Linked DNA regions of Homo sapiens. The protein of the gene in region 1 purifies or fractionates together with the protein of each later gene. This does not show direct contact. Each region holds a gene or a part of one and is shown in the gene's direction. Other genes may lie near its edges.

Region 1 (3,824 bases):
GTCTCCTGAAGCCTCATCTGATAATTTCTCCAGTGTTTTCAAACAGAAAAGTATTACCATTGATTCTTACTTTTCATTGATCACACATACACCTTTTGGGTGGCAGTGGGTGAGGGGGGTGCTTTCCAGTGAAGACCAGAAAACCTGCTAGACAAATTCTAATAGAGCTGTAACACTCATGCACCTTTCTTAGTAGTAAGGCATATGACATTATTCAGACAAAGCTTCCATGGAGAATAAAATGTTATATAATTTTCACTTCCACTTTCCAGAAGAAATCCCTTTCTTCCCGTTTTCTCTGTGATCCCTTCCAGATCTATGGTGCACTTGCATACTGACTGGCCACTTTAGATCATGTAGTTAAGAACAGCCTTATCTTTTCAAGGGAGACTGCGTAGGGTATTGGGTGAGAGTGTGGGCTCTGATCCCAGTTTCTTGAGTTCACATCTTACTATCTTCCAGTCTGTGACCTTGGGCATGTTACTTAACCGTTCTGTTTCCACCTGTTTAAAATGTAGATAATAATAGTCATTATATCACAAGGATATGAATGTGTGTGTGTGTGTTTTATCTTAGAAAAGAACCTGTATATGATAAGTGTTCAATAAATGTTAGGTATGATTATTCAACAAATGGTATTCAGTGCTGGACCCAGGCAATACACTGATTACACCATGAGCAAGATTTGATCCCTGCCCTTTTTTCTCAGAATATGTTTCCTGGTGCTCAGGTCATATTGAAATTTGCTATGTTAATTTGGGTTTGACATTTTTTATTTCATTTTGTAGTTGAAGTCAAGTGATTTTGCTGTTCTGAAGCAGTTGTTGCCTCTGTTGGAGAAGGTATCCAACACATACCCTGATCCGGTCATCCAAGAACTCGCTGTTGATCTCCGCATCACCATCTCTACCCATGGAGCCTTTGCCACTGAGGCCGTCAGCATGGCTGCCCAAAGTACACTGAACAGAAAAGATCTGGAAGGGAAAATAGAAGAGCAGCAACAAACCAGTCATGAAAGACCCACTGATGTAGCTCATAGCCACCTTGAACAACAGCAGAGCCATGAGACAGCCCCCCAGACAGGCCTGCAGTCAAATGCTCCAATCATTCCTCAAGGAGTCAATGAGCCCAGCACTACTACAAGTCAGAAATCTGGAAGCGTAACCACAGAACAGCTCCAAGAGGTTCTTTTGTCAGCTTATGACCCTCAAATTCCAACACGGGCTGCTGCCCTGCGTACTCTTTCCCACTGGATAGAGCAGAGAGAAGCAAAAGCCCTTGAGATGCAAGAGAAGCTTCTCAAGGTGAGTAGAACACACTGTAAAGACACATGGGCACAGGGTGGGGCATTCATTCAACTCAAGTATTTTTGGAGCCTGGACTATGTGTCAAGTGCTGTTCTGGACCACCCTCCAGAAATTTGTGAATTTTGTGAGGAGGCAACACTTAGACACAGGAAAGATTTATTTAGACACAGGAAAGACTTAAACTCCTCAAATGAATATGAACTGAGTGCCAATTTTTTTTTTTTTTTTTTTTTTTTGAGATGGAATCTCGCTCTGTCCCCCAGGCTGGAGTGCAGTGGTGCAATCTCGGCTCACTGCAAGCTCCGCCTTCTGGGTTCACACCATTCTCCTGCCTCAGCCTCCCGAGTAGCTGGGACTACAGGTGTCTGCCACCACCCCCGGCTAATTTTTTGTATTTTTAGTAGAGACGGGCACCATGTTAGCCAGGATGGTCTCGATCTCCTGACCTCGTGATCCACCTGCCTCGGCCTCCCAAAGTGCTGGGATTACAGGCGTGAGCCACCACACCCATCCTTCAAAATTTTTGCATGCAAGAAATGCTGTGGGCAGTCAGGAAAAAGAGAAAGTTGAAATCTTCTGGAGGATGTAGGCCTTAATATGGCCATAACAAACTAGTAAAGTTTGAGCAGATGAAAGAGGGGTGGGATAGCTTGAACAAATTCCCAGAGATGGGAAAGTACCTTTTGTGATAAATAGGTCTGCTTCAACACTGTGACCCAGCCCAGATAAGCCACCTGTTTTCTCTGGGCATCTTTAGTGGGGCGTTGGGCAAAACTGGGTCTCCTCCCCTCTTCTCTCCCTTCATCGTGGTGAAATAGCTGTTTTTTGTTTTGTTTTGTTTTGTTTTTTTGAGACAGGGTCTCGCTCCGTCGCCCAGGCTGGAGTGCAGTGGTGCGATCTCAGCTCACTGCAATTTCCACCTCCTGGGTTCAAGTGATTCTTCTGCCTCAGCCTCCCAAGTAGCTGGGATTACAGGTGCCCACCAACACACCCAGCTAATTTTTGTACGTTTAGTTGAGATGAGGTTTCACCATGTTAGCCAAGCTGGTGTTGAACTCCTCACATCAAGTGATTCACCTGCCTCGGCCTCCCAAAGTGCTGGGATTACAGGCATGAGCCACCGCGCCTGGCCTTAAATATCCTTTTATACACCTATTTGAAGGTGAATTCAATGAACATCTTGGAATTTTTTTTAGCTTAATTAAACCTTCTTCTGCTGTACATAATTGGTCACCAAGTCCTGTCAATTCTTTTTTCAAAGAAGTCTTTCAAATGTATCTTATCCTCTTTATTTCCATGGCCATTACCCTAAATTAAGCTTCCCTTGCTTACTCCATAAAAGATTCCCTACCTTCAAAACTGGCCGTCTTCCTAACTGGGGTAATTTTAGGCTCTCCGTACATACTTCACATGTAGAGACCAGCAGCATCAAGTTGATGTCAAGAATTACTGTGCCAACGAAGAACACAGCATTATATATGGAGCAGACACTTCCGTCTTCCTTTCTCTGGCTCTCATGTTGGGGCCTAAACCTAACATATCATGTAATATCTTCCAGATAAGCTGTACTCACTGTAGTTGATACCCCTGATAGGTTCCTAAATTGTAAGATATTTTGAGAGTAATTTGTTACTAATATCAATTAAAGTGCTGAAATTTACAAGATTTTCAAAAATAAATTAGAACAGATTCAAAGTTATCTCAATAATAACATCTCTATCTCACTTGCACTTCCATATGCTTTGTGAGTACAAGAGAAAAGGATCAAATTGCAGCAAATGTGCCATCCATTGCACATAACCCCAAACCTTGTCTCTTGTGTGTCACACCCCGTAGTCTGTCATGCCATATGTGAGAATGTTATTCACCATGGCTGTCATGGAAAAATGTTGAGGATTGTTCTTCCATCGGTTTCCAGGACTACTGCTGGAAGAATACAAGTATCTCCCCCAGTCTCTATACTTTTTTAATGGTTATAAAAATGAGACTTAAGCATATATGCCATTTCCCCCACAAAACTCTGTCAGACCAGTTTCTACCCAAGAAAAACAAGAAGCGAAGCATTTACTCCTTTGAGCTGCTGATAAGGGAGCCTCTTAAATCTTCCTTGTTCTTTGTAAATCTTATCACTGCTGTATTTTGTGGTTCCAGATATTCTTGGAAAACTTGGAACATGAAGACACTTTTGTATATCTATCTGCAATTCAGGGTAAGTCAGTCCTGGTTAAAGGACTTTAAGTATGTGGACCAGAGACTGTATCATGTTTATTTGCACAAAATCTCTAAAGTCCTAGGGCCAGGAGACTACTGGTCATTTTGTCCGTCTTCCTGCCTCCTAGCTAGGACACTTTAAGTCATAATAATAATATTCCTGAAGGGTTTCCAAAGAGTCCCTATAGAGTTTCAGTGTCTCATAATGATGAGGAAGTTTTTATTAATGTTTACATATTCTGTAGATTAAATCGTATTTCCTCTAATTCAAGGAGGTAAAGAATGACTCACACATGAACTCTTATC
Region 2 (3,824 bases), on another chromosome or scaffold:
TTTCTGTTGTCTCCCACACCTAACAGCAAGTTTATGTGTTATCTGTATGCTCACTTTTTTTTTTTTTTTTGAGACAGAGTTTCGCTCTTGTTGCCCAGGCTTGAATGCAATGGCACAATCTCGGCTCACCACAACCTCCACCTCCCGGGTTCAAGCGATTCTCCAGCCTCACCCTCCCGAGTAGCTGGGATTACAGGCATGTGCCACCATGCCCGGCTAATTTTGTATTTTTAGTAGAGACGGGGTTTCTCCATGTTGGTCAGGCTGGTCTGGAACTCCCGACCTCAGGTGATCCACCCGCCTTGGCCTCCCAAAGTGCTAGGATTAGAGGCGTGGGCCAACGCACCCGGCCTTGTGTGCTCACTTTTATCTGGTCTTTCGAAAGCATTCAGTGTGGTGTTTTAGAAATAACTACTAGAGAGTCTATGTAGTACAGTAGTTAAGTACTTGAGCTCTGGAGCCAAATTGCTTTGCCACTTATTAGTTGTATAGGCCATAGACAAGTTACTCAGTTTTTGCCTTTGTAAAACAGGCATAATGGTAGTATCCATTTCTAGGTTTCTTGTGAATATTATAGGAGTTAATTCATGTAAAGCATTTAGAACAGTGCCTGGCAGGTAGTAAGTACTCAGTGTTAATTGCTGCTGTCATTTTTCTCTTCTCATTTATACTTCATTGCTTTACATAGTATTTACGTACTTTCAGTAATAAGCACAACTGGCATAAATAGGTTTGTGAATAAACACACTGTCACCATTGATAAGCACACTTCACAGAGGGGGAACCAGAAGTGTTGTTCCCATCACATTGGAGAATAGCCTAATGGTGTGATGTCAGTTAAATTGGATAAGAGAGTTCTGTGGGATAGTTTGCTAAGAGTATAAGGCAACAGTTCACAGAAGAAAGTAATGGATTAAAATTGAAAAGGAATCCAGGACCATATTTGTCAAATACCTTGAAGGTCAAGGTGACAAGTTTGTACTTAGATTGGTAGGAAGTGGAATTTTTTATTCTAAATGGCATGATTGATGTAAAAAAGTTCAAATGGCTTAGGAGTGTATGAAGTAAAAAGTTACATTTCCCTAGCTCCATTCCATGTCAGTAGCCACTTCATTTTCTAATGGCCCCTAGAACATGAGGTTGTTGTGAAGGCATGGTAAACACCACTTGGGGCACTGGTATTAATCTGTTAAAATTTTCAATTCAGCTTTCCTTTGGATTATAATCTCAATTTTGAATTGAGAAAAATAAAGTTTCCATACTAAATGTGAATAAAATGAAATGACTGTTTTGAAAGTAGATACCATACTCATAAGAGTCTTTGATTCCTAAGTCTTTCTCTACCTCTTTTGTCCAACTTGGAAGTCTTGGTAGAGAAGGACTTAGGAATCAGAGACTCATCTCTACTGTTAATTCCTTTTTGCACCTTTCCCACCAGAAGTGCTACAAGAGAGAAAGATGATATAATAATCACTAGAAAAGCAAAGTGTTCGGCCAGGTGTGGTGGCTCCCGCCTGTAATCCCAGCTCAGGCAGATCACCTGAGGTCAGGAGTTCGAGACCAGCCTGGCCAACATGGTGAAACCCCGTGTCTGCTGAAAATACAAAAATTAGTCAGGCATGGTGGCGGGCACCTGTAGTCCCAGCTACTCAGGAGACGGAGGCACGAGAATTGCTTGAGCTCCGGAGAGGCGGAGGTTGCAGTGAGCTGAGGTCACGCCACTGTGCGCCAACCTGGGCGACAGAGTGAGACTCCATCTCAAAAAAAAAAAAAAAGAAATAAAGAAAGCAAAGTGTTTACAGTGACAAGTTGATTTCAACTAGCAGTTGTCAGTTAAGTTAGTAACAGGGCATCACCCAAATAACTGCATTTTAAAGTGGACAGGGCAGGCCTGACTGGGGAAAAGGGAGGGAAGGGGTAGGGGGTTCCTGATGCCTGTACTCCCACATGCAGCTCTTAAATCCATTTTAAAAACTTAAAAGTTTTCTGTAGTTTTGTGACTTAAGTATAACAAGTCATCAAAAGTCTGATACTTAATACATTACAATGAACAGTTTATGCCAAAAGAAATCTTATAGTAGGGCCTGGGAAGGAAATGCTTTTGAAGTTCCATTGCTTTGAGTAATATCATTTTATGATTTAGGTAACATCCCCAAGCAGAGGAGGGGCCCATCCTTAGGAATGCAAAGCCCTGCAGAGAAGGAAAGGGTTGAGAAGGGTCCACCCTACCTCTTTTCCTTTACACAATGGCCCTAGGCTTTTGTATACAACCTGCTTTTGTAGGCTTAGGACATTATGAAATACAGCATGGTAAGATGGAAGCCTGAATCTCAAAAGTAAATATGAGAAATGATTTGGAGGGAACATATAAAGAGAGCAAAATTCTAGCAACAGGTGACATATTTCCCTAGATAGAAGAGTTATTGTAGAACTATGATGAGTGTTTATATAATTTTGAAGCAGTTTACAGCATCTAGAATGTAGTCATTTAATTTATGAAATGAAAGGGAAATGGTGTAACTCATACACCCGCATCCTCTCTCCTACCTTTTCTGATGGCTTTTTATGAGTTCTCACACAACCCCTATGCATAATCTATACCTTAGTACATTTTACATTATTTTTAAATTATTTACATGTGTCCCTCTTTCACCAGAATGGGTTTCTTATGGTTAGAGTTTCATCATGGTACCTTCATTCGATAGGTATGCAATAAATAGTGAAAGAATAGTCTGAGTTCCTTGAAATTGCATAGCAAATGAGACCTAAGAGCCAGATCTAGAATGCAGATGTAGAACCTCTTTCAGTTCCTAGCCCAGTACTTTTACTGCCACACCATACAGCCTCTATCTGAGATATTGAACAATTTTTTTCTTTTTTCTTTTATTTTTTCTTGAAACAGGATCTTGCTTTGTTGCCCAGGCTGGAGTGCAGGAGCACAATCTCAGCTCACTGCAACCTCTGTCTCCCAGGCTCAAGCAATCTTCCCATCTCAGCCTTTCGAGTAGCCGGGACTACAGGCATGCACCACCACGCCCAGCTAATTTTTTGTATTTTTGATAGAGTCGGGGCTTTGCCATGTTGCCCAGGCTGGTCTCAAACTCCTGAGCTTAAGCAGTCTGCCCACCTTGGCCTCTTAGAGTGCTGGGATTACAGGCATGAGCCACCATGTCCAGCCTCATTTGCATTCTTGTACTGCATTTTCATTAAATCATTCAAGTTCCTTTTATCTTGTGTAACATATTTAATTGCATTTTCCTACTGAATAAAAAAAAGGGAACAGTTCAAATGTTTTCTAGTTTCTGTCTTATGCCATATTAATTTCCAATATTACTCATAGGCAAACCAACAACATTATTATCCAAACAGTTTAAATGCTATGTAATATAACTAAAGCAAAGTTTAGACAAGGAGGACCATTGTCTACATTTGATTATAACAATAAAGCAGTTAAAGCAATGCTTTGCCAATGTATATTTGTCTGACTAGCTAGTTTTGTTTAAATCAAACTGTGAAAGGCTGTATACTTCAAGAAACATGAAAGTGAGCCTTATGTGTGACTTAGTTCCTTTCAGAGATTAATTTTGTCATCTAATGAGCAAGCAAGCTATTATATTTCATATTTACTGTACCTTAAAATTGGAAAGTATTTAACATATTTTATTTGACCCTTACAATACTATGAGATTGGCAGCGTAGGTATTTTAATATCTGTTTTGCAAATTTTGCAAATTTTGGTGATTTGCCTAATGTCACATGGCTAGTATATGGCAAATGTGGGTCCAGAGCTCAGAGCCTTTGATGCCTCGTGCTGCATGCTTTCT

What was found.
Region 2: the proteins of TANGO6 (region 1) and SLC31A1 purify together in Homo sapiens (co-immunoprecipitation; one large-scale study listed by IntAct). This does not show direct contact.

Annotation. Positions count from the first base shown.
Region 1 is NC_000016.10:68,926,780-68,930,603, forward strand, and holds part of TANGO6 (transport and Golgi organization protein 6 homolog), read left to right. Parts: intron 1-788; coding exon 789-1,304; intron 1,305-3,458; coding exon 3,459-3,516; intron 3,517-3,824.
Region 2 is NC_000009.12:113,224,376-113,228,199, forward strand, and holds part of SLC31A1 (high affinity copper uptake protein 1), read left to right. Parts: intron 1-3,824.